Homo sapiens: one gene and its partners. The protein of the gene in region 1 interacts with the protein of each later gene in a pairwise test. Each region holds a gene or a part of one and is shown in the gene's direction. Other genes may lie near its edges.

Region 1 (4,332 bases):
ATGTGACCTTATTTGGAAATAATCTTTGCAGATATAATTAATTAAAATGAAGTTATGCTGGATTAGAGTGGACCCTAAATGCATTGATTGGTGACTTTATAAGAAAGCTGCGTGAAGACATATTGGTATACACAGAGAACACCATGTGAAGTTGGAGGCAGACGTTGGAGTGATGTGCTTACAAGCCAAGGAATGACTGCCAGCCACCACCAGAAGCCAGGAGAGAGGCATGGAATAAATTCTTCCTTAGAGCCTCCAGAAAGATCCAACGCTGCCAACACCTTGGTTTTGGACTTCTGGCCTTCTGAACTGTGAAAGAATAAGTTTCTGTTGCTTTAAGCCACTTACTTTGTGGTACTTTGTTACGGCAGCCCCAGGAAACTAATAACAGACACTGTCAACTATTACTGAATTTAGAATTCTTAGAACCATCCTTACCTGTATTAGTTTCCTAGTGATGCCCTCACAAAGTACCACAGACTGAGTTGCTTAAAACAATAGAAATTTATTCTTCCACAGTTCTGGAGGCTAGCAGTTCAAAATCTAGGTGTCAGCAGGGCCATACTTTCTCTGAAACCTGTGTGGGAATCCTTCCCTGCCTCTTCCTAGACTTTGATGGTTTTCTGGCAATCTTTGGCGTTCCTTGGTTTGCAGCTGCAAACCTCTAATCTCTGCCTCTATGGTCACCTGGTGTTCCCCCTGTGTGTCTCTGTCTTTACCTGGCTGTCTTTTTATAGGGAGGCCAGTCATATTGGATTAGGGGCCCACCCTACTCCGGTATGATCTCATTTTGCTCATCTTAATTTACCTAATTACATCTGCAAAAACCCTATTTCCAAACAAGGTCACATTCTGAGGTACTAGGGATTAGGACTTCACATAACTCTTTTGCATGAGGACACAACTCAACCCATAGCACTACACCTTTCTTTTGTCACCATTTCAAGTTGATCCCCTTCTAGCTATTTCATGTTCTCCTGCAGCAGCATCTCTCAGAGTAGCTCCTGTCCTCCATGCCCGCTTCAGCCACCCTGGTTATGGCACAGTCATTTTTCTGCGGTATTATAGTACTCACCTCCAGATTGATTTTCTTACTTCATGTCATTCTCTGTACATCCAGCAAGTTAGCTAATCAGTTTCTAATCAGATTTCTGTCATTTCCCTGGCCAAGACCTACCAGTGACTTCCCCTAACCACAGCCTCAAGTATAAACTAGCACAGAAGGCCAGAAGTTTGGCCCCAGCTTCTCCTTCTAACCATCTCTCTTGCCACTTTGCACCATGTGCCGCAAACCACACTGGGCTACTCACCCTTTCTTGAAAATAGATTTTAGATCTCCAGGCCTTTGCTTACGCTGGTCCCTATGCCTGGAATACCCTTCACAACCCTAAACCCTCTGCTGAACTGTTTTTCATCCCATAAGGTGCAACTGAATCACCACTTATTCAGCTTGCTTCCAAAATTCCATCACATCAAATTATTGAGCCTTTACCTATGTTTCTGTGACACCTTGTGATTCTGGATACTAATGTAACACTAGTAAAGATATAGAACCTCTTATATACAACAATTAACCTTGACAGTCATATTTTAACCTTGAAAGTAGAAATATAAGCAACCATATGTATGAACTTTGCCTCCTGTTGATATTAATTAACCATTGAGGCATATGCAAAAAGTTTGTGTGTGTGTATATACACGTATTTATGTATTATATAAAATGTGCATCTGTGTGTGTATATGTGTACACACACACACACAAATAAAGTGGCTTATCTGCAAGATCATACTGTGAGTGATCCAGTGTTCTTTTCATTGTTTACTGAAGAAACAGTAACCAATCAGCCAGTATAGATACCAGTTTGTATTTTAAAAATTGGGTTCTTTAGGCAGCAGTTCACGTCTGTAATTCCAGCACTTTGGGAGGCTGAGGTGGACATATAACTTGAAGCCGGGAGTTTGAGACCAGACCAGTCCGGCCTATATGGCGAAACCCGTCTCCTAGAAATACAAAAATTAGCCGGGCATGGTGGCATGTGCCTGTAATCCCAGCTACTCGGGAGGCTGAGGCATGAGAATCACTTGAACCCGGGAGTTGGAGGTTGCAGTGAGCAGAGATTGTGCCAGTGTACTCCAGCCTGGGCAACAAAGTGATACCCTGTCTTTAAAAAAAATAATAAAATAAAAATAAAAATTGGGTTCTTAAGAAAGTATAGGAGGATCTATCAGCGTATTCATGCTGCATAACAACTCCTTAAATTTCAATGGTTCACAACAAGACACATTTCTTTTTCTTGTCTATGGGCATGTAGGTCAGTGAAGCATGGCTGGATTCAGCTAAGCTTGGCTCTTAGTCCGCAAGTCCAGCCTGGTCTGATCCACCTTGGTCATTCTAAGAACAGCAGCATCCTGGGCCATGTTCTTTTCATGGTGATGGCAGAGGCACAGAAGGCCAAGCCAAATGATGCCAGCACGCTAGAGCCTCTGTCCATGATATGTCTGCTAATAGTACATAGGTCAAAGCCAGTCATGTGGCCAACCCCATATCAAAGGAACAGGAAAATATACCCTTCTTACTCCACAGGAGGTTCTACAGAGTCATATGACAAAGAGTGTGGGCACATAATTCTTATACAGGGAGGGAATGAAGAATCAAGAACAAGTATCCAGTAGACCACAAAGTCCTTATGAACCTAAAGTAGATGGTAGAAATTTTCACTTTGCAAATAAACTGGTGTTGAATTTTCAAAACTGTACTTTGAAATGTGGTTCTAATCATATCCATTTTTGGTTTTTTTCTAGAGATGTGAAGATGTTTGGCTTGGTATGCCATCACCTATTCCTGCGAAATACATTGACTACTGGACCTTTTTGAAGGACGCGTTTGGCTTAGAGGAGGAATAACCATGCCAGTTTTGGTCAATTCTCTATGATTTACTTCTCTCATTTTGCCACATTTACTTTAGTAGATATAATTTCATTAAAAACAAAAAAGAAACAAGGTTTATATTAAATGGAAATCCATAAACCACAATTAATCCTATTTTGTCATGTTAGTTTTACAGAACATCATGTTACATTGCCGACGTACTGTTACTATTTAAAATGCCATCTTAAAACATGTTGAATATTTTTATTATATGTATGGTTTATTAATACCAAAAAATCTTCTGATAATTTTTGATCCAACATAATTTGATTCATTACTATATGAACAGAAAATGACTTTTGAAGGTTATACATGACAATACAAAATCAAATTATATCACAGCAATAAGTTGTGATTCTATTAAACATTTTTGAAACCTTTTTGACACGTTTATTACTTACATAATTAAGTTTTGTAGCAACCCACCTCATCAAAATAATTCTTAAACCTCTCTAGAGTAAATATATTTATCTTTTGAACTTAGTAAAGCTATGGGAAGAAAAAGAACCTCCAACACACACACACACACACACACACACGCACGTGCACACACACTGGAAACATATGCAGTATTTATATTTGTAATGCCCTTTTTTCTATCTAAAGTCAGCTTGTTAGCTTAGGAATATATGCATGTGTGTATAATTATAGTTTGACCAAAACTTTATTATGTCTAAAATATTTACAAATGTGAAAGCTGAAGATTTTGAGATTTTTGTTTTTTTTTTGGTTTGTTTTACACACACATCCCACGCGCCCCACCCTAGAGGTTTAAATATTCAGAAACTACAACATTTTTCCCCTGCATTTTTCTAGTTCTATTTTTATTTTTCTTCAGCAGAACTCTTGTCATGTAGTGTACATTTGATTAAAACCCATAGCCATGTACCTCTGGGAATTCAGTGTAAGAAGTCTATCCCAGTCTATGCCATTGTTCAGTGTTGGATGCTATGTATCATAAATCCATTTGCCTGGTGTTCTGGGAGACAATGGAGGTCTCAAAAAGGAGCTGCACCATTTACCTTTCAGGGACTACCCTGAGAAAAAGAAGAGCTGATGACATCTCAAGGGACCCTTCGGACTCATTATTCTTTCACTCCACATTTGCAGCAGTGTCTTGCTGGCTTCTTGGCACTCAAATGTACCAATTTATTCTCCACAACAATGGCCCTTTCATTTTTAAAAAATTGGAGTTAATCAATAAACGATTTCTATATGTAAGCCTAGGATAATTCCACATGTGCTATTGTTAGAATAGACGCTCCTCCCAACCCTTTCAGGACTTAACACTAAACTAGTATACTCAATTTATATACTAAAACTATCTACCATAAATCCTAAATTTGACTACTTGATTTTTGTCCCAGGTTTTTTTTAAGGCAACTGACAGTGCCAAGCCATTT
Region 2 (7,978 bases), on another chromosome or scaffold:
AGGTTGCCTTTGCTCACAGTGAAGTCATGCAAAATAATGATAAACCTTCTGATGATATAGGATGGTAAAAACACACACACAAAATATTCAGATACCAGCTAGGAGGAAGAGAACCTCAGGTATGGCAGTACTTTGATGGAAAAGAAGACATGTAGACATTTTTCATCAGAAATAAAAAAGGACACGATGGAACCTTCCCATATTTCTGTTGGAAATGTAAAATGGTACACCTATTGTGGAAAACAGTTTGGTGGTTTTCCAAAAAGTTAAACATAGGCCGGGCGCAGTAGCTCATGCCTGTAATCCCAGCACTTTGAGAGGCCAAGGCGGGTGGATCACTTGAGGTCAGGAGTTTGAGACCAGTCTAGCCAACGTGGTGAAACCCCATCTCTACTAAAAATACAAAAATTAGGTGGGCATGGTGGCGGGCACCTGTAATCCCAGCTACTTGGGAGGCTGAGGCAGAAGAATCGCTTGAACGCAGGAGGCGGAGGTTGCGGTGAGCCGAGATGGTGCCATTGCACTCTAGCCTGGGTGACAAGAGCGAAACTCTGTCTCAAAACAAACAAACAAACAAACAAACAATTGGCTGGGTGTGGTGGTAGGTGCCTGTAATCCCAGTTACTTGGGAGGCTGAGGCAGGAGAATCGCTTGAATCCGGGAGGTCGAGGTTGCAGCGAGCCGAGATTGCGCCATTGCACTGTAGCCTAGGCGACAAGGGCAAAACTCCATCTCAAAAAAAAAAAAAAAAAAAAAGAAAGAGTTATAAAATTACCATATGCCCCCAAAACTGTATGCCTAGGTCTATTCTCCAAAGAATTGAAAACAGGTACTCAACATACTTATGCATGCATGTTAATAACAGCACTATTATAATAGCCAAAAAGTGGAAACAACCCAAATACTCATCAGTGGATGACTGGATAAACAAATTGTGGTATATCTACGTAGTGGAATTATCATTCAGCCATAAAAAGAAATAAAATCTTGGTAAATGGTACAAAACATCATGCTAAGTGAAAGAAGCCAGTCACAAAAGGTCACAGGTTATATGATTCCATTATTAGGAAATATCTAGAATGGGCAAATCCATAGAGAAGGCAGATTGATGGTTGCTAGGGGCTTGGGAGAGGAGGCAATGGGGAATAACTGCTTAATAGGCACAGTTTTCTTTTGGGGTGGTGAAAATGTTTTGGAACTAGAGAGAGGTGGTGGTTTCATAACATCGCGAATGTAGTAAATGCCACTGAATTGTTCATTATAAAATCGTAAATTTTATGTTTTGTGAATTTTACCTCGTTAAAGTCAAAATGCATACATATATAAATAGGACAGTGTTACAGTTGAGAAGGCAGAAGCATCCCATGCTTCCTCTTCCACTCAACTGAGACTCTTTGGTTTCGTCATCTGTAGGAAAATGAAGTTGAACTAGGTGACCACTAATATCTCTTCCAGTTCAAATTCAAAGGTAAGAAAACTCAACATTTTTCTTTCTCCCCTACTCCTCCACATGCTTGAAAATGACTGCATCTATACTGCAGATGCACACTGGAAGACAATGTTGCTGTAATTAAATTACAGGGAAATTAATTTGCTTTAGTTATTATGGAAAGGTATTTTAATATTCATTATTATGACACAAATTAGTGGACAAATAACTAAAGCAAATGCACTTTAACAATTAGCTTGGGTTTTCCCTCTCTGATGCTCAGACCCACAGCCTGTGCCTGGCTCCAGCCTGTCTGTGTTCCTCCGTGCAATCACACACTCTGATTTTTGCCAGTCACAGTATCTCTGATTCCTCTGCCAAATGCAGTGCTGGCAGCCCTAAGCTGATCGGGAGGTCCTTGATTGATTAATGAGTGCCCTTGCCAAGCAGGGATGGTGCCAAGGGATTGAATTCCTTTCTAAACTGCCCATGCTTTACAACCAACATAATCTAGAACAGTTGTCACTAGGACTCACTTAGACTATTGCTCTAGTTATAACGAGTTACAATTTTACTGTGAAATTATTGAAATATTATTTGAACAGTAAACTAAATTTACCCACTCCTGGGATTTGAAGTCTTGGGTCAACATGTTCATTCTGGAAGGTGGTTGTATAATTTTCTGTATTTTACTGACCACCACCCCTCTACCAGTGATTGCAGGTTTCCATTCCTTTGTAAATTCCCTCCTTATCGTTCCTAGGAATAAGGTGTATCTACAAAAAGCCTCCAGCTAGAAACATTTCAGCTAGTTACTAAGGATTATCTGTCACCTTCCCCCTTTTTGATTCTGTCCCTCTTCAGGGATATCTACTTCTGAGATTTACACAGTCCCCAAAGCTGCAAAATGCACGACCCAATGCCAACCAGGGTCTACATTCAGGCTGTCTTAGACCAGGTTTCTCCTGGTCACCCCATTATCCATAGTGCCCCTGGAGGAGATCACTGCAGGAGGCAAAGCAGTTCCTTCTGTGCAGGGTTCAAGCAGAAGTAGAGAGGAGGGCTTTCCTCCTTTTTGGTACTGCACTCCATTTCACTCCTTGCTGCAATTTTTTTTTTTTAAGGCTAAATTTCACTTTTGTCACCCAGGCAAGAGTGCAGTGGCATAATCTCAGCTCACTGCAACCTCCACCTGCTGGGTTCAAGTGATTCTCTTGCCTCAGCCTCCCGAGTAGCTGGGATTACAGATGCCTGCCACCATGTGTGGCTAATTTTTGTATTTTTAGTTGAGGCGGGGTTTCACCACGTTGGCCAGGCTGGTCTCAAACTCCTGACCTCAGGTGATCTGCCCACCTCGGCCTCCCAAAGTGCTGGGATTACAGGTGTGAGCCACTGTGCCTGGCCCTTTGCTGCAATTTAACAGTCCTCCAGTTTTCACTTTATGTCTCTGGCTCCCACCACTCAAATGTCCACTGCTCAGATAGACAAAGCTGAGAGACAAATGCCCTGTAGAACTCCTAAGTTCTCCCTCCACTGGCCTCTAAGCTTTTGTGCTGGGTCAGGCTAATTTGCTTGACTCTTTTCCAGTGACTTCTCTTTGGGGAGGCTCCCCAGCCCCTTTTGCAAATAGATCCTTCCAGATAAGCCCAGACATACTGAATCCCAAGTGGAGGCTGCTATGGCTCAGGGTCAGACATTGAGTTCCCAGTAACTATTTATTAGCCATTCACTATGTGCTAAACACTGGGGTTCCAAGGATGATGGTCTCCTCTCATCATGGAGCTGCCTTGGGAATTTAGACAAGAGCTCTTTGAGCAGTGATGGCCTTTACCCCAAGGAGGGGTACCTCCTGCTCAAAGGTAATACCAAAGGTGCCAACTAATCACTGACTTGGCAGAGAACCTCTCTCAATATAACTAGAAGTTTCATCAAAGTTTCTTAAGCACTCCACCATTGACTGCTCTCCTTCACCATCCCCCAGGTTCTTACTCAACCACGTGCCTCTGTCTGCTTCTTTCCAACTTGTAGCAGCACCTTTCCTCTTCTATTCTTTGTTCTTGTCCTGGATGTCATTCCCTTTCTCCCCTCAGAGGCAGAGAGGAGAGGGCTGCTGGAGGAAGAAGAAAAGTGAAAAAGCTGTAGAAATTTGCTTCCACAATAAACAATACCCGAAAAACCTGTACATTCTTTTCTTCAACTTAAATGAAGAACCCAAGTGTGCACTCATATGAAGTAAAAAAGGTGCAAATAGGCCGGGCACGGTGGCTCACGCCTGTAATCCGAGCACTTTGGGAGGGCGAGGCGGGCGGATCACCTGAGGTCGGGAGTTCGAGACCAGTCTGACCAATGTGGAGAAACCTCACCTCTACTAAAAATACAAAATTAGCCAGGCATGGTGGCGGGCGCCTGTAATCCCAGCTACTTGGGAGCCTGAGGCAGGAGAATTGCTTGAACCTGGGATGCGGAGGTTGTGGTGAGCAGAGATCACACCACTGCACTCCAGCCCAGGCAACAAGAGCAAAACTCCGTCTCAGAATAAATAAATAAAAAAAATACAGTTCCTTTTTTTTTTTTTTTAAAGAAGTACAAATAGCTTTGCATGCAATTTATGAATTTTTTCCTGATTCTGATCGCTGGTGTTCAGTAGGAAAGGGAATCAAAACTCCATAAAGCAAATCAGCTTATCTGTAGATAACCAAAGTCTTCTCAGTGGTGTCTGTCCCTCTTGTGAAAGTACAGCTGCTTGTGGGAAAAGTGAGAGACCTAGAATACAGTGTATCTTTTGGGGGACATACCTCTGACTGTTACAGAAGCATGTGATTAATTTGGAAGGTAGAATTTCGGAACATCATATTTTAATAGGAAGCTTGAAAGGTAAGTAGAGGAAAACATCAAGCAAAGCAAAATACACCATTTGCAGAGTTCAATCAGATATGACTCAGCATTTCTTCATTGTGCTCATCCCCAGCTCCTCAAGCACATAGTGCCTTGCACACAGTAGGGGCTGAGGGAAATATTCGTTAATGCATTAATTTTAGTTAAAACTAGATACCTCCTAATCTCTCAGTGGCTTGAACTGGGTCAAACAGCAGAGGAATGGGGTAAATAAGGAAAGACACCCGGTAAAGGTAGAACAAGACCACTGCTTAATAAATATATTCGTTTTTGGGGTTATTATTTTGCTCAAAAGTCTATGAGGTGACCAACCCAGAATGTGGCAGTTAATTCTATTTACATTTTCAGTGTGGGATCCAGGTTTTCAAGTTTGTTATGTGATTTTATGCAAAACAATATGCAAATCCAGCGCATTCTAAAAATTCAGTCTGCTTTCCAGCCGCTCCCCTGGTCACAAACAACTAAGGTTGGCGCCGGGCTCTCTGGGATCCTTCGCGGAGGGGCAGAGCAGGCGGGGGTGACTGGCAGCGGGGCGGGGGAAAGGGCGGTCCCGGAGGCGGTCCCGGGGCGGAGCCCGTGACGCGCGGAGTCGGCCGGCTTAAGGGCCGGACCTCAGCGTCTCCCGGAGTCTGGCCGCAGTCGCGGCAGTGGTGGCTTCCCATCCCCAAAAGGCGCCCTCCGACTCCTTGCGCCGCACTGCTCGCCGGGCCAGTCCGGAAACGGGTCGTGGAGCTCCGCACCACTCCCGCTGGTTCCCGAAGGCAGATCCCTTCTCCCGAGAGTTGCGAGAAACTTTCCCTTGTCCCCGACGCTGCAGCGGCTCGGGTACCGTGGCAGCCGCAGGTTTCTGAACCCCGGGCCACGCTCCCCGCGCCTCGGCTTCGCGCTCGTGTAGATCGTTCCCTCTCTGGTTGCACGCTGGGGATCCCGGACCTCGATTCTGCGGGCGAGATGCCCCTGGGACACATCATGAGGCTGGACCTGGAGAAAATTGCCCTGGAGTACATCGTGCCCTGTCTGCACGAGGTGGGCTTCTGCTACCTGGACAACTTCCTGGGCGAGGTGGTGGGCGACTGCGTCCTGGAGCGCGTCAAGCAGCTGCACTGCACCGGGGCCCTGCGGGACGGCCAGCTGGCGGGGCCGCGCGCCGGCGTCTCCAAGCGACACCTGCGGGGCGACCAGATCACGTGGATCGGGGGCAACGAGGAGGGCTGCGAGGCCATCAGCTTCCTCCTGTCCCTCATCGACAGGCTGGTCCTCTACTGCGGGAGCCGGCTGGGCAAATACTACGTCAAGGAGAGGTCTAAGGTAGGACGCGCTCGGCGCCCTGCCGCAGCTGCTCCCGCGGGGACGGGAGGCACTCGGAGTCCGTTGTATGTCGACTTCCCAGGGCCGTAAGCGAACTTTGTTTTTTAACCAAGAAGTCAGCCTGGTTTGTCTCTACTCGCTGCTTCCCCCCACCCCTCGCCCCAGCTCCTCTGAGCGAAAGTCAACGTTAAGGGGCTCAGGTGAACCATGATGATGACCTTCTGTTGACTTTGAAATATTGGCTCTTGTGGGTGACAAAAGCCAGACAAGCTGTGGCTGTGGTCCGATTTTAAGACGAGGTTCTCAAAGATCCAAAGGAGGGAAAGGGTATTGGAAACACTGTGTATCATCTGAGACACACGTGTCCTCATGATCTTAAATGCCTACTTTAAAGCCACCTAATACTGCCCTTCATTGTGGTCAGAAGAGATTTCTACAAAAGCACTCAGAATTCTGGAGGCAGTTGTGATTTTGCCATGTGGCAGTTGGTTTGTGGAGTTGGGCAGGTGTGAAAGGGTAAAACTCCACTTCTGAATGCTGCTTCTGCCCCCTGGGACCCAGCACATTGTTAGACCATCTTCTTGACTGAAAATTCTCTCCTGATGCTGAGCCCTGCACCACCACCTTCCTTTTCCTAACTATGAATTGATGGCAAAGTCCACTCAAAACAACCAGTTAAGTGCTCACGAGAGAGTAGTCAAGCACCTCCAGAAAGAAACCGGGTTTTTGTTCACATAGCAGGAAGTGACTCCCTGGGTGGTAATTTATCTTGGAAACACAGGTAGATTGGCAGAAAAACGGGAACATGTAGGTACCGCGATGTTGGTGCATGTCCATTACTTTGGGATAGGCTTTCTCAGTCTTTCCTCAAATGATAGTTGAGCCAGTTTTCCAGTGGCAATTCTGAGTGACTTGCGCTTGTCTTATGGTGTGGTCAAGGGACGTTCAGAACTACGGAAAACTTTTACTGAAACAGCGAAGCAGAGTATACCGGCATGAGAGGGAAGATGAACACTCACCTATGTACCACTCTTTGACAATAAATATAGTATTTCTCAAATCAGTCTCAAGACTGATCCTGTCTCAGAACAGACCATTGTTCTCTCATTTCTCTAATACGCTGAGAGGAACACTCTGAATAAAGGCTAAGTGGTGAGGATTGGAAACGTGTGGGAGTGAAGGGGTGGAGGTGGATGAGTGCAGTGGGGAGTCACAGTTTGCCGTACAACTTCCAAGCCAAGAGGCCATGAATAGAATATCTGAAAGCATCGTTATTAATGCACCCAAGTAAAGTAAATCTTAGAAGATACTGCTTTCTAAATTTTACTTTGGGGAAAAAAATTCCGCGTGAGCTGAACTCTGTAGGAGATTGATGCTAAAGTGTTTCTTTATTCTTCTTCCATCATGTTGGTGGTGGATTAGTCACTCGTCTTTGACTAGTTTGATTTTTGCATTAAATGACCTTGCTGTCTTCTGTGGTGGAGGTGTGTCGGGGAGGGGAAGGGTCAGCCTCAGTGTTGCTGAGATGCTGGTAGTTTCTACCTGGAAGAGCAGACGGCTTCTTATTGGGTTTTTAAATGTTTCTTGTAAATTTAGGTGTTAGGAGTTTTTCTTCATCATTCTAGGAGCAGAATTTGCTCTGAGGGAGGTCAGGATTAATTGGTATGGAAAGAGGCCACTAACATTGAAAGTTAAATATTTTTATTTAGCTTTGACTTAATGGATAGGGATAGGGTTTCAGACTAGAATTTAACTCAAATGGAAGGAAAAACACTGTGTAAGTTAGGGTAAGGGAAAGAAAGATCCTGTAGATATGATTCATCAATTTTAGGTTATCTTTTGGGTGGAATGAAAAACTTTCCAGGTGACCCTGTCAGAAGGTGATCGTGAATTGAAAATAAAATTTATCCTGTCCCACCCCCAGATTTCCAGGTTTACTTTGGCTGGTTTGTCACAAAGCTCCCTGCCCTTTAGATAAATCACCTTTCGATTGGAATATTCCCTGGCCAATTAGAACCAAATGCAAACCAGGCTTGAGCAAACAACTAGTGTAGTTAAATTTTTTTTAAGTGTGCTTTGCTTGTATACAGAAGTCTCCTTAGTGATGTCTTGTGGTCTTGGGTTTCTTGTTTGAAGTTCATTATTAAAGTCATGGTAGAAACACTTTCCATTTCTACATGATTTTTATTGGTTTCACATTAATTTATCCTTCTTTTTCTTCACTCACTTTTTATCCCTCAGCTGAGCTCCTCATTTTGTGCTGCTTTCCAGAGCAGTGATAGAGACCCAGTTTACCGGTTCATCCTTCACCCGTGTTTTCAAGAAAAACTAAAGTTTTAAATTTAT
Region 3 (6,998 bases), on another chromosome or scaffold:
TTGCCCACATGATACTGCTGGTACACAGTCCAGCCAGGCCTCTAATCCACATAGGTCCATTTCCAGTGCCCATATACTCTACACCTTGCCGCTGGGTGTGTGAATGCCATGCTCTGCTTCTTTTGATTGGGGGTGGGAGAGGTTCTCCCTGAGAGGAAGAACCCTTTTAGAGAACAAAGTGAGTCAGATTCCACAACTCTGCAGCATCCTCTGAAGGGAGCAATTCTCATCATATTTCCTCTAAATGCAGAAATGGGAAGGCGAATGGTTTGGTGTCTGGAATATAGAGTAGATTGTTAAATTCTCCAAAATGTGTTTGGGAATGGGGGCAGTTATGAAGCTCCTCTTAGCTTGACAACATCTTGTCATCTTCCTCCCTTTGGGAAACCGGTAAGTGACTATCATTGCTCTGCCACTAGGCAGGGACCTATGGCCTTGCCGTCCATCTCCTCCCTACATTGCTGCCCCGTGAGCCAACTGTGCTGCCTATGAGTTGGGCACAGCTCTGGGGCTAATCCTCTTTATCTCCTTATTTGTGGCTTCTCTGAGTCTAGAGGAGTCTCAGCTTTGAATAGCAGAAAACTGGAAGTGACAACTTCATCCAAGGCAGCTGCTAGCCTAGGAGGCCAGGTAACCCTTGGCCTGCTGCCTCCGCCATGGTCAGCACTGACTGAGTACCTTACCTTCTTTGTGTTAGGCACTGCTAAGTGCTGGGCATCCGATAATCTGCACAGCATCCTATGAAATAGATACTGTTAATGCCTGCAGCATTGCTTTCATTAACTTCAGTAAGCTACTAAGCTCAGTAAAGAGAACCATTGGCAACTGACTGAGGAGAATGGAGAGCTATGGTACTTGCTGTGAGCTTATTAGGAGTTGAGGAGAGGTAAAGGCATGAGCCAGAGTAATCCCAGCAGAGGTAAGTCTTGAACTGGATCTCCAAGAAAAGGCGGTTCAGAGTTTGGAAAGTGAAAGGCTTTCTGGGCAGGGGATGTAGTTTGAGCATAAGCAGGAAAGAGCCTTACAAGTGCAGGAGAGGATGAGACCAGCCCTGCTGGAGTGAAGCAGACACGTTGGGGAAGAAGAGCAGACAAGGCTGCAGAGGAACTATTAAGTGTTCATGGGTCAGCAAAGCGGTGTTGTGGCAACAGTGTTGTGTGGAGCAAGATCTGGGTGAACCACTTAGTGGGAGGACCCAGCAATGATGTGAGGTTGGGGTTTGGGACAACAGGAGTGCCACCCTATAGACCTGGCCTGCAGTGGATTTTGTCCCCCTCTGGAGCCTGGGACTTGGTGAGCAGTGGGTAAGAGATCTGAGACCAATAGGTGCTACAGGCAATTGTCTGGTATAGGGTGCAAGGGATTGGCAAGTATGTAGCTGATACTGCTTCTTCACCTTCTTTTCCAGGTTGAATCCCAAAAATGTTCACCAGAGGCCTACAGTGGCTCTACTGTGTGGACCTCATGTGAAGGGGGCTCAGGGTATCAGCTGTGGAAGGCACCTAGCCAACCATGATGTCCAGGTCATCCTTTTCCTGCCCAATTTTGTCAAGATGTTGGAATCTATCACCAATGAGCTGTCGCTCTTCAGCAAGACCCAAGGCCAACAAGTGTCTAGCCTCAAAGGTGAGCACTTAGGCAGGGCTGGGCTGAAGGCCTCCTCCCTCCTTAGCAGTTTGATGGTCTCGTCATGCCACCCAGTGGCGACAGGTGGAAAGGCACTACGTGTGTAAGGATGGTGCTTCGCCTCTAAGGAGTCTTAGAACAGTAATATACTACTTCCCATCCCCTTATGCTTCTCCCTCTCCAACTACTCACATGAAGAGCTGGGGACCCATTGGTCCATTCCACAAATATTCGTTGAACAGGCACTCTTCCTGATGCTAGGGATATGGCAACAGATTTTTTTAAATCCATTCTTCTGTGGAGCTTATATTCTGGTTAGGAGGAACAAAAAGACATGTAACATACTTGTGTAGTTGTAGTAAGTGATGTGGATAAAAACAAAGCAGGGAAAGGAGGCATGTTGGAGGACTGGGTGGAGAGTAGGAGACTTGGACATTTCAGGGTCAGGTCATGATGGGCCTTGGGGATGACCACAAGGATTTGGGCTTTTACTCTGGTGAGATGGGCAGTCATTGAAGGAATAAGTAGAGAAATGATATAATCAAATTTAGGTTCCAGATGATCATTCTGGGTGCTGTTTGAGAGTAGACTACACAGAGGAGTACAGAGAAGTGTCAAGATGCTGTTGTGATCATGGGAGAGAGAGATTATGGTGGCTAAGACAAGAGTGGTAGTGCCAGAGGTGGTGAAGGTAGTTAGTTTCTAAATCAGTTTTGGAGATAGAATCCACAGACTGGATGTATGGGGGGTGGGAGAAAGAGAAGAGTTGGCAATGGCTCCAAAGTTTTTGGCCTCAGTAACTGAGGTGCGATCACTGAGATGGGAAAACTTGATAGAGAAGGTTTGGGGAGGAACAGCAGAAGCTCAGCTTGAGACACCTATTGGATATGCAGGTGGAAATGTTGATAGGGAACGAGTTATATGAATCTGAAGTGAAAGGATTCAGCCTAGAGTTACAAGCCATAGGGAATATTTAAGCCATGAGGAGCCTGGATATGCTGTCACATAGGAAGAGAGTAGATACAGAAGTTGGAAAACTGAGCTCTTTATTTAGAAGTCAGGGAGTAAAGAGCCTAACCAAGGAGATGGGACAGGAATGGTCAGTGAGGGAGGAAGAAAACCAGGAGAGTATGGTAGCTGAAAGCCAAGTGAAGAAAGGAGCATGTGGTCAGTGTGTCAGCAAGCCCCGTTCTAGGTTAAGGTCAAAGGAAGACAGAATCGACCACTGGATTTAGCATCTCTGTGGAGGCTCCTGGTGAGCTTGATGAGTGGTCTTAAGTGGAGTGGTAGGGACAGAGTCTGACTGGAATGGGTTTAAATGAGAACAGCAGGGAGAAGAATTGGAGAGAGCAAATATGGCCCAGAGAAGGGACTCCACCAGAGGTCACATAGTGAGTCAAGGGCAAAGCCTGGACCAGAAACTTCACCTGCTAAGTCTCGGGCCAGGCTCCTGTGGGCACACAGAAGATAGGATGCCACTCTCACTCTTGAGAGCCTCATCACCCACAGGGACTCCCCCCGGTGGCACATTCTAAGCAAGGAAGTTGTGAGTCTCTAGCTGAGAAATGCTAATACTCTAGGCTGAGAGCTGGGAAGGGGGCCTGGTGTGGGTTCCCCTTGTAATTTTTAACATGATGCCCCCTTCCAGGCAGTTCTTCCTCTTGCTGCCCAAAAGTTTTCCTATCCCAGCTGCTCCAGGACACAAGTCTCAACGACCATTAAGTTTGGTCTGATTTATGCTATTCTCAGTTTAACTTCTTAGGCCAGTACAGGATCTACATACTTGTTGAGACATCCTTTTCTAATACTGTCCCAGAAGCCTGGTTAGAGCAGAGGAGCCTGGGAGAATAGTAATAGGTTCCCTCTTAATTCTTAATTAAGGTTGGGCTGAGTGGAGGACCCATTCCTGTGAGATAATGAGTACGAGAGGGGACAGGCTTGCTAGAGTAGAATGAGTAGGCCAGCTGGAATAGAATAAGCATGCTCTCACCTGCTCACCCTTCTTGGGTCAGCAGATAGCAGTCAGCTCCTGTTTTTGCTGGACCTGAGTGGGGTTTCCCTGTGATGGCCACCTTGACAGTGGACTCTGCCTTCCCAGAGGTCATAAGGTGCCCAGGGCATTAGTTGGATATACAGAGGCATGCCTGAGAAGGCAGAGGAGGTGAGGGCTTTGTGCCCTGAGAAGCTCTGCACACTCAGGACGACAATGGTTCATCCTGAGAACTCCAGGAGGGCAGTGGTCTGCTGGGCTGACATGCACTTGGTCTCTAGCACTCAGCCCAGCCAGCTTGCAACTCCTAGGGCCTGTGCCCTGGCCCAGCTTTAAGAAGGCCAGCCTTTGGAGAGGCATTCGAGTGGTGTCTGGAAAACAAAGACACCCTTGGGGTGACCTGGGCCCTAGTCCCAGCCTGGGCTGCTCTCTGCTCATAGGGACTTTCAGATGGCACTCTTTCCACCTGCAGATCTGCCCACTAGCCCTGTGGACCTGGTCATCAACTGCCTGGATTGCCCTGAGAACGTCTTCCTGCGCGATCAACCCTGGTACAAGGCAGCTGTGGCCTGGGCCAACCAGAACCGGGCACCAGTACTCAGCATAGACCCTCCTGTGCATGAAGTCGAACAGGGCATTGATGCCAAATGGTCACTGGCACTGGGCCTGCCTCTGCCACTGGGGGAGCACGCAGGCCGTATCTATTTGTGCGACATTGGCATTCCCCAGCAGGTCTTCCAGGAGGTGGGCATCAACTACCACTCGCCCTTTGGCTGCAAGTTTGTTATCCCACTGCACTCTGCTTAGAGGGTTCCTGCGCAGGCAGGACTCTGCTGTCCCCTGCTGCTCCTGATAACAAACGCCTTAAGGATATGAAGCTTCATGGACCTTGTTAAAGTTTTTTCTCTTTTGGGTTTGTTTCTTCTGTGAGAGAACAGAACTTACTTAAAACTGACCTGTCACTTGCTCTTAGCCAGGGAAGTCTTTCCCACTGGGTTCCGGGCTGGGTGGCAGGCTGAGCGTGCAGCAACTCCAGGCATCTCTACCCTCAGCCCCCTGCACGGCCAGGTGGGCCTTTGTTTACAGCCGTAGGCAGCTCTCAAGACTGTGTTTCAGGTTTACAGCCACTGGGCCTGGGCACACACATTGAAGAGTGGGCCAGGTCCTGTCTGGGGGCCTGTACCTGCTCTATTTCAGAGCTTGTGGCTTTGTGTCTCCCCTGCTTTCCCCACGCAGACAGCCCTTCCTCTGTAGAACCAGCTGCACGGCAGCTGTCCACCAGAGGGCAGACCTGCACTCTCCATTCATGTCCAGGGCTGTGACAGACCAGGCCTTCCCCTAGCCCCACAAGTTGATTTGGGGGGTTTTGACCCTTACTCCTGAGCTGATCCAAGTTTTATGCTGATTTTTCCAAGGATCTCTCCCTCCTTTTCCCTCCATCACTCAGAGGTAGGGAAGGGGGCGGCATTAGGATGGTGTTACTGTATTGGGATTTTATGTTGTTCTGTCGTCTTCAGCACAGGTAGTATAAGGTTATATTACTGTAGAACCACAGTGCCCATCTTGCCAGCAGTGCCCGCCCCCACCCTCAAAGCTGAGCAGGTTGAGCCTTTGCCTAGTCTGGGGCCAGACCCCTCAGATGGGGATATCCCTGGGGGAGCCTGGTGCTGAACCAGAAGAGGCTTCCTGGTGCTTCTGTCCTAGGCCACCACTCCTCCAGCCCTTTGCCCGCACATACATGCCCCACCTACTCTTTCATCCCCTCTGCCCTTCCCCTGAAACGGTCCTTTGCAGCTGTCATCCCAGAGCAGGCAGATGGGCTCCCGTGCTTGAGCTCCACCCCAGCTCTTACATCATCTGGGCTTTGAACCTTTTACATTTGTCCAGTCTAGATGAGTAGGCTTGGGGCCAGCACCCTGTCTCAAAGATGGCAAAATGAGGCTAGTTCTGGATGAGCTAGCTGGTGTGGGTTCCAACCATAGGAACACACTGATGCTCAAATCCTAAGGTGCCAAGCTCTAGGCCCTGGAGGCTGGTAGAACAGGATCTATGCCTGGAATCCTGGCAGGGATTCCTGTCAAGGACTTGTGTTTAAGCCTGCTTCAGGGCTTCAGGCTGCTTCTGCTCTGTGTCTGCCCAGGCTGGCTGAGCGGGTGGATGGGTGGACAGAAGGGCTCACCAAGGATTGTGGACATAGGGTAGGCCCTGGTACCACGGGTTTCAGGCTGTTATCACTTCCCTTGTAGGAACATAGCCAGAAGCAGATGAGCCAGGGTAGAGGGCTGGCCCCTCCTCTCATCTTCCCTTCAGTCTTAAATTGTCTCCAGCGATGGGAAGAGGCCAGGGACTGTAACCCTTGTGCTGTGTATTCTCTGAGCCTCTGCTCACTCTCAGGGCCAAGCAGCTCCCAAGCCGGGGCCCTCTCTTGGCCAAAATCTGAGGAGCAGTCTAGGTTACAGGCTTTTTGGTAGGTAGGTTCTGGCTGCCTGTTAATGCAGTTAGGCCCCCTGATTAGGTACAGTGAGAAACAAGCTAGAACAACCCTGGCCCAGAAGACTGTCCACTCCAGCAAGATCCAGGGATGATAGCCTTGCAGGGCCACTGGGAGTTTGTGCCCAAGCTTCTCCCTCTTCTCTCCCCAGGGGGCACTGGGACTGGTCCCTGCCCTCATCCTTAGCCTGGGCCTTCCCCAGAGGTATTAAAGAGAAGTATGATTCCTCTGTCTTCAGTTCTTTTCAGGGGCATCCTGCCCATAGTACCCAGTTCCCAAGGGGCCCCCAGTCACGTGGTGAAGCCTAGCACTCATGCAGCTCTTAGGGAACCAAAAACCAGCACTGAAATAAAGCTGAATGACTGACTGAGTCCTGTGCCGTGTGACTTGCTCTGTAGGCTGTCATGAGGTGCTGTCTGTCCCAGCCTAGGAACCCGCCCCACTCGTCTCCTGCCCTCAGCAGGCCATAGTTGTTGGGCACATACAGCCTAAAGTCCTGGCCAGTAATGGGACTGGCAGGCTGTGGAAAACCAGACCCCACCTGGCTAGCCACGGTGGGCTGATTCCCTTAGGTTCTCTGGGGCTGAGAGGTACAGAAGCCAGCAGGGCAGAGGTGCCATCTAGGACTGCTCAGCAGCCTGGGCCCAGAGGATGTCCCCAATTCTGGTCTTACCCCTGCCTAGCTCTTCTGTGCCTGGCCCAGTTCACACTTAGCTCTCCACAAGCTGAACTGCTAAGAAAGACTTTATTAATAAGGTCAGGTAAGGGGAAGGCAAGGAGCCTGGAGATGGACACACTGGTACCAGGGGTTACAAACAGTAAGAAACACTTTATTATAACTTTATAACATATAAATAGCTTGGGTCAAATCTGTGCTTTCTGGCAGCTGGG
Region 4 (7,031 bases), on another chromosome or scaffold:
TCAGCCTCCCAAAGTACTGGGATTACAGGCATGAGCCACTATGCCAGACCAGCTTCTGGATTTTTGAATCACTGTTTGCCATCAGTCTCTTATGACCATTTCTAAGCCTCATGTGTAATTACGATTTGTTATATTCATTTTATTGTTGTTGTTTGTTCTTTGAGACAGGGTCTTGCTATGTTGGCCAGGCTGGTCTCAAACTCTTGGCCTCAGGCAATCCTCCTGTCTTGGCCTCCCAAAGTGTTGGGATTACAGGCATGAACTACCACATCCAGCCTCCATATTCATTTTATCCATTAGTATTCATTCTGAATTACAGTTCCCACTAGATGTCAGTTTCATGAAGACAGGATTTTCTCTGAGATGGAGATTTGCATGCAGAGGTTTATGGAAGAGTCTCCTTGGGAACAACACCACAGGGAGTGAGGCAGAGCTGGAAGCTGAATTACACCAGTGATCTCAGGCGATCCCATGGGGAGCTCTGGAGCTAGGATGGCCCTCCCTGTAGAGCTGAGGCAAGGGGTCATGGACCCATCCCTGGATGTGGGCTCCATCCACGGATAGCACCTGCCCTTGGACAAGGTGGTTCTCCTCAACCAATGGCTGTCGCTGGGAGAGGTACTCAGCTTTGAGGTCTCAGCTCTGGGAATGAGTGTCTCAGTTCCGAAGGGGAATCTGGGCAAAGCACCACAACATCCTCCCTGGTTCACTGCTGTGTTCTCTACACCTACCTACCTGGCGCTTGATAGGTGCTCAGGAAATCCTTTGATGAAAGACAAATGAGAACAGAAACACAGCTTTCCAAGTCTTCGCCGAGGCCAACTGGGTCACACATGGGAGCAGGCTGGAGGGGAGGAGCCCTGAGCAGGTGTTTTTAGAATCATCTTCTCCAATGCTTCTGGCCTATCTCCCATTGCTGCTCACTGGGTGATCTGGAGGGCTCCTCTTACTCAACAGTCAGTGCCATCAGGGTGGGGTGGCCTGGGGACTGGGGCCCTCCCTGGACCCTGGGCACTGTGACAGCTCTCTGCATGTGCATCATTCTGTGAGCTTTCAGTCCTGACTTTTTTTTTTTTTTTTAATTAAATCTCACTTCAGCATTCCTTGAAGAAAAGAGGAACCCGCTCCCTGGGGAAGGCCGATAAGAAGACTTTGGTGCAGGTAATTCCCAGCAGCCCCCGTAGGAAGGTTTTATTCTGAAGACCTGAGCCTGACTCTAAGTGGCCTGGGGATCCCAGATTCTGCCCTGTCCTCCCCTTGCTCATTTTCCTTTTTTTCTTTTCTTTTTTTTTTTTTTTTTTGAGACGGAGTCACACTCTCTTGCCCAGGCTGCAGTGCAGTGGCACAATCTCAGCTCACTGCAACCTCTACCTCCCAGGTTCAAGCAATTTTCATGCCTCAGCCTCCCGAGTAGCTGGGACTACAGGCGTGCACCACCACACCTGGCTAATTTTTGTATTTTTAGTAGAGACAGGGTTTCACCGTGTTGACCAGGCTGGTCTTGAACTCCTGGCCTCAAGCAATCCACCTGCCTCGGCCTCCCAAAGTTCTGGGATTACAGGTGTGAGCCACTGCGCCCGGCCCCCTTGCTCATTTTCTTAGTTTCACTGCCCACTTTATTTCCCAAAACCACATCCTGAGCCCATGGTTCTTAGATGCTTAGATGCTCGCTCCCCACCCCAGCCAGGAACTTAGCAAGCAGCACTACAGTCAAATCCAAAGGTCTAGAGTTGGAGACCCAGGCTTGAATCTTGGCTCTGCCACTTGACTGCCATGTGATTGGAGCGAGTCATTTTGAGTTTCTGGGCTCCATTTCCTATCTATCCCTGTCTTGGGGGTTCATTGGAAGAATTGGATGAAGTACTATATGCAGCAAAGGCCACATACCGTTAGCTCCTAGTGGTATGGGATTGTCAGAGTGCCAGGCCCTTTTCATCCTTAGCTCATTTAATCCCGTCTGTGGCTCTGGGAGGGAGGTAATGTTACCGCCCCATTTTACTGATGAAACTGTAGTGGCAGCAGTTGCTCATCAGTATGTCACCTGTTCCTGTACTCCCAGGCTATGTGTGGCGCCCCATCCTTGCTGTCATTTCAACATCTACCCCTCTGCGTCTCCCCCGGACCCTTAGCTCCTTGAGGGTCTGGCTGTGTCTGATTCATCCCTGTGTTCCCAGCACATAGTGCTCCCCAAAATGCCATGGCTGGTACTGAGACTCCCAGCACTAACCTTCCTGGGTTGTGTCTGTCTCTGTGGTCCCAGGAGGACAGTGCAGACCTGAAGTGCCAGTTGCACTTTGCAAAGGAGGAGTCAGCCCTCATGTGCAAGAAGCTCACTAAGCTTGCCAAGGAGAATGACAGCATGAAGGAGGAGCTGCTGAAGTACCGCTCGCTCTATGGGGACCTGGACAGCGCGCTGTCAGCCGAGGAGCTGGCCGATGCCCCCCACTCGCGGGAGACCGAGCTGAAGGTGCACCTGAAGCTGGTGGAGGAGGAAGCCAACCTGCTGAGCCGCCGCATCGTGGAGCTGGAGGTGGAGAACCGAGGCCTGCGGGCTGAGATGGACGACATGAAGGATCATGGAGGTGGCTGTGGGGGTCCTGAGGCACGCCTGGCCTTCTCCGCGCTGGGTGGCGGAGAGTGCGGGGAGAGCTTGGCAGAGCTGCGGCGACACCTGCAGTTTGTCGAAGAGGAGGCCGAGCTGCTGCGGCGCTCCTCTGCCGAGCTCGAGGACCAGAACAAGCTGCTGCTGAACGAGCTGGCCAAGTTCCGCTCGGAGCACGAGCTGGACGTGGCGCTGTCGGAGGACAGTTGTTCTGTGCTCAGCGAACCTTCACAGGAGGAGCTGGCGGCCGCCAAGCTGCAGATCGGCGAGCTCAGCGGCAAGGTCAAGAAGCTGCAGTACGAGAACCGCGTGCTCCTCTCCAACCTCCAGCGCTGTGACCTCGCCTCCTGCCAGAGTACGCGGCCCATGCTGGAGACGGACGCCGAGGCCGGGGACTCTGCCCAGTGTGTGCCTGCTCCCCTGGGCGAGACACACGAGTCCCATGCGGTCCGACTCTGCAGAGCCAGGGAGGCCGAGGTGCTGCCTGGGCTGAGAGAGCAGGCCGCCCTGGTCAGTAAGGCCATCGATGTCCTGGTGGCTGATGCCAATGGCTTCACGGCTGGCCTCCGGCTGTGTCTGGACAACGAGTGTGCTGACTTCCGGCTGCATGAGGCCCCCGACAACAGCGAGGGCCCCAGGGACACCAAGCTCATCCATGCCATCCTGGTGCGCCTGAGCGTGCTGCAGCAGGAGCTGAATGCCTTCACGCGGAAGGCAGATGCAGTCCTCGGGTGCTCTGTCAAGGAACAGCAGGAGTCCTTCTCATCACTGCCCCCCTTGGGCTCCCAGGGGCTCTCTAAGGAGATTCTTCTGGCAAAAGACCTTGGCTCAGACTTTCAGGTAAGGTGCCTCATGCACAGATCCTATTATTTATTTTTTTCCTTTGTTTTGTTTTGTTTTTCTTGAGATAGGGTCTCTCCCCGCTGGCCAGGCTGAAGTGCAGTGGTGCAATCTCAGTTCACTGCAGCCTCGATATCCTGGGCTCTAGCCATTCTCCCCCCCTCACTCTCCTGAGTACCTGGGACTACAAGTGAGCACCACCACACCCAGCTAATTTTTATTTATTTTTTATTTTTTTTGAGACGGAGTCTCGCTCTGTCACCCAGGCTGGAATGCAGTGGCGCAATCTCGGCTCACTGTAACCTCCAACTCCCAGGTTCAAGCGATTCTCCTCTCTTAGCCTCCCAAGTAGCCAGGATTACAGGCGCCCTCCATCATGCCTGGCTAATTTTTGTATTTTTAGTAGAGATGGGGTTTCACCATGTTGGCCAGGCTGGTCTCGAACTCCTGACTTCAAGTGATCCGACCGCCTTTGTCTCCCAAAGTTCTGGGATTACAGGTGTGAGCCACTGTGCCTGGCCATAATTTTTAAATTTTTTTGTAGAGATGGAATCTTGCCATATTGCCCAGGCTGGTCTTGAACTCCTGAGCTTAAGTGATCCACCAGCCTCAGCCTCCCAAAGTGCTAGGACTATAGGTGTGAGCCACTGTGTGTGGCCTAATAGTCACATTTTAAATGTTCAGTATTTGTGTGTGTCTAGTAGAGTGGATCTAGAATATTTCATCCTTGCAGCTTGTCCTTCTAAATCCTTCTCTACACATCTATCATATATTTGTTTTTCCACCCAGATTGCTTTATATCTATTGTTACTACACAACTTATATTTTTAACGCAATGTATCAGTTTGTTAATTTATGATGCCTTGTCTGTTGTTCACACAGTTTTTGTGCTCACTGCTGAAGATGTCATGATTAGCAAAAACAGATATGATTCCCCCTCTCATGGTCCTTATCATCTAGTGGGGCAGAGTCACCCAAAATATCATGTCAGTGAATGTGCAATTAGACACTGAGAGAGGAATCTGAAGGAAGCGTACATGGTTTTATGAACAAGGAACTTGACCTAGACCCTATGCTGAGGGAAGGCCTCTGATCTGACCAGAGGTCAGAGGGATGGATGGCTGGGGGAACACAGTGTTTTCAGCAGAGCAAATAGCCTGTGCAAAGACACAGCTCAGATCAGAGGCGGAAGGAGCGTGGTGTGTCCAGGACACTGAGTGAAGAGACAATGTGAAGCTGGACTGCACTGAGCATGCGGGAGGTTTGATCTTCATCCTCAGAGCAATGGCAGGGAATTTTTCATTTCCAGGGAAAGAGAGCGATTTAGCACTTTCTTTTTTTCTTTTATCTTTTTTTTTTTTTTTTTTTTTTTTGAGACAGAGTCTTACTCTGTCGCCCAGGCTGGAGTGCGGTGGCACGATCTCAGCTCACTGCAACCTCCGCCTCCTGTCTCCGCCTTCCGGGTAGCTGAAATTACAATTCTCCTGTCTCCGTCTCCTGGGTAGCTGGAATTAGAGGCATGCCCCACCACACCTGGCTAATTTTTGTATTTTTAATAGAGATGGGGTTTCACGATGTTGGCCAGGCTGGTCTTGAACTCCTGACCTCAGGTGATCCACCTGCCTCGGCCTCCCAAAGTGTTGGGATTGCAGGTGTGAGCCATCGTGCCCTTCTGAGATTTAGCACTTTCTTTTTAACAACTATACAGTGGATATGTGCCATAATTTCTTTAACTCAAGACCTGTTGATCCGGTTTCATCTTGCTTTTTTAAGCAAGCACATTGCCTTTTTTTTTTTTTTTTTTTTTTTTTTAAAGAAACAGTCTTGCTCTGTTGCCCACGCTGGAGGGCAATGGTATGATCACAGCTCGCTGTAGCCTCAAATTGTAGATGGAATTACAGGCACATGCCACTGTGCCCATAGACTGCTCTATGTTATCTCCCTTTTGGTTCTTCTTGAAAGAGGGATGAACAGAGGTCACACATGTGATAGGACAGTTTGGGCTGACTCAAAAGGTTTGTGCACAAGGCACACATTCAGAAAATCACTTCGCACTTACCTACTCATTCATCCTTTCAGCAAACATTCATTAAACGGCAGCAGTGCCCCCAGCTGGGGCTGGGTCTGGGTTGCAGAGGTGAATCTACCAGGGTCCCAGCCCTCAGGTGGGTGGTTCAAGCCTCTTAGGGAGCGCAGAGGCCTGGGGTGGGTGTTTCTGGCACCCCTCGGGCCCCTCCCCATGGTGATCTTTGGTTTGTTCTGCCTGTGCCTCTGGGTGCAGCCACCTGACTTCAGGGACCTGCCGGAATGGGAGCCCAGGATCCGAGAGGCTTTCCGCACTGGTGACTTGGACTCTAAGCCCGACCCCAGCCGGAGCTTCAGGCCTTACCGAGCTGAAGACAATGATTCCTATGCCTCTGAGGTGGGTCTAGGCCTGAGCAAGCATGGGATTGGGTAGGAGGAGAGTGACTGAGCCCTGTCAAAAGCAGAGTGGTCCATATATCACTTAGCTGGTGAGGATATGGGTTTGGGGCATTCCATTTGGTTCCAGGCTTCTTGGCAGCCAAGGCCAGAAGGGAAATAAGGAAGTTTGGGACATTCTCATGGCCTGATCCAAGGAAACTTATAAACTCATCTGCATAAATTATTTTTTCTTCTGTACTAAATTCCACTGGGAATTTAACAATTTATGTAATTTAATGGAACTACTCATGTATGTAGCAGGAAGGCAGCAGTCTCTATAGCCAGGCAGTTTGGGTTTCAATTGTGGATCCACTCTATTCTGGCTGTGAGATCTTGGATAAGTCATTTTACCTCTCTGATTCTCAGTTTTCTCACATGTAAAATGAAGGTGCCTCACAGGGTTGTTGAAAGGATTAAATACATGAAAAGCCATAGCTTAAGGCATGGTCCACATTGGGTGAGGATGAGGAGGAGGAGGAGGATGATTATGATGATAATGACACATCTCTGGGACTCAGGGGACCTGAGTTCAAGTCTCAGTTCTACCAGTGTTCCTGTGTGACCTTGGACAGATTTCTACCTTCTGGCCACAGCTTCCCCATCTGTAACGGGAGGGTTAGAGTGAATGGTAGTTATTGAATTGCTAGGATTCTTTGATCCTCAGGGAATTCTGGGTAGTTCTGAGCCCCTTCTAAGCCTGCTGAGCTTCTCCTTGCTCTTCATAATGAGCCTGAAGCAGGAAAAGGCTCCTACGGACTGGGTGGAGTATCCCTGAAACCCTGAACCTTGCAGAGTCCTATGTATTTTCCAGCCTGAGCACCTTTCTGAGCATCTCTTGGAAGACAACTCTGTAGTCCCAGGAAGGTCAGCCCATGACTATGTGGGAAGGAGAAGCTCACTTGAAGCTGATGGATCAGACTCTCTAAGTGAGCTTCCTGGAAGCCATGGCAAAAAGAGAAAAAACTGAGATAACTTAGTTGTCATTTTCTAAGAAAAGGAAATAGGCCTATTCTTTTTTTTGTTTTTTTTTTTTTAGACTGAGTCTCGCTCTGTTGCCCAGTCTGGAGTGCAGTAGTGCGATCTTGGCTCACTGTAACCTCCATTTCCTGAGTTCAAGCGAATCTCG

The links.
Region 2: the proteins of EFHC2 (region 1) and EGLN3 interact in binary tests that used the Homo sapiens proteins (3 or more experiments, as listed by UniProt).
Region 3: the proteins of EFHC2 (region 1) and EDC3 interact in binary tests that used the Homo sapiens proteins (3 or more experiments, as listed by UniProt).
Region 4: the proteins of EFHC2 (region 1) and MTCL2 interact in binary tests that used the Homo sapiens proteins (3 or more experiments, as listed by UniProt).

Annotation. Positions count from the first base shown.
Region 1 is NC_000023.11:44,147,367-44,151,698, reverse strand, and holds the end of EFHC2 (EF-hand domain-containing family member C2), read left to right. Parts: intron 1-2,802; coding exon 2,803-2,904; 3' UTR 2,905-3,827; downstream 3,828-4,332. UniProt on the Homo sapiens protein: Microtubule inner protein (MIP) part of the dynein-decorated doublet microtubules (DMTs) in cilia axoneme, which is required for motile cilia beating.
Region 2 is NC_000014.9:33,948,050-33,956,027, reverse strand, and holds the start of EGLN3 (prolyl hydroxylase EGLN3), read left to right. Parts: upstream 1-4,953; 5' UTR 4,954-5,275; coding exon 5,276-5,632; intron 5,633-7,978. UniProt on the Homo sapiens protein: Prolyl hydroxylase that mediates hydroxylation of proline residues in target proteins, such as PKM, TELO2, ATF4 and HIF1A. Target proteins are preferentially recognized via a LXXLAP motif.
Region 3 is NC_000015.10:74,630,037-74,637,034, reverse strand, and holds the end of EDC3 (enhancer of mRNA-decapping protein 3), read left to right. Parts: intron 1-1,408; coding exon 1,409-1,626; intron 1,627-4,088; coding exon 4,089-4,423; 3' UTR 4,424-6,477; downstream 6,478-6,998. UniProt on the Homo sapiens protein: Binds single-stranded RNA. Involved in the process of mRNA degradation and in the positive regulation of mRNA decapping. May play a role in spermiogenesis and oogenesis.
Region 4 is NC_000020.11:36,811,537-36,818,567, reverse strand, and holds part of MTCL2 (microtubule cross-linking factor 2), read left to right. Parts: intron 1-1,098; coding exon 1,099-1,161; intron 1,162-2,260; coding exon 2,261-3,442; intron 3,443-5,723; coding exon 5,724-5,864; intron 5,865-7,031. UniProt on the Homo sapiens protein: Microtubule-associated factor that enables integration of the centrosomal and Golgi-associated microtubules on the Golgi membrane, supporting directional migration. Preferentially acts on the perinuclear microtubules accumulated around the Golgi.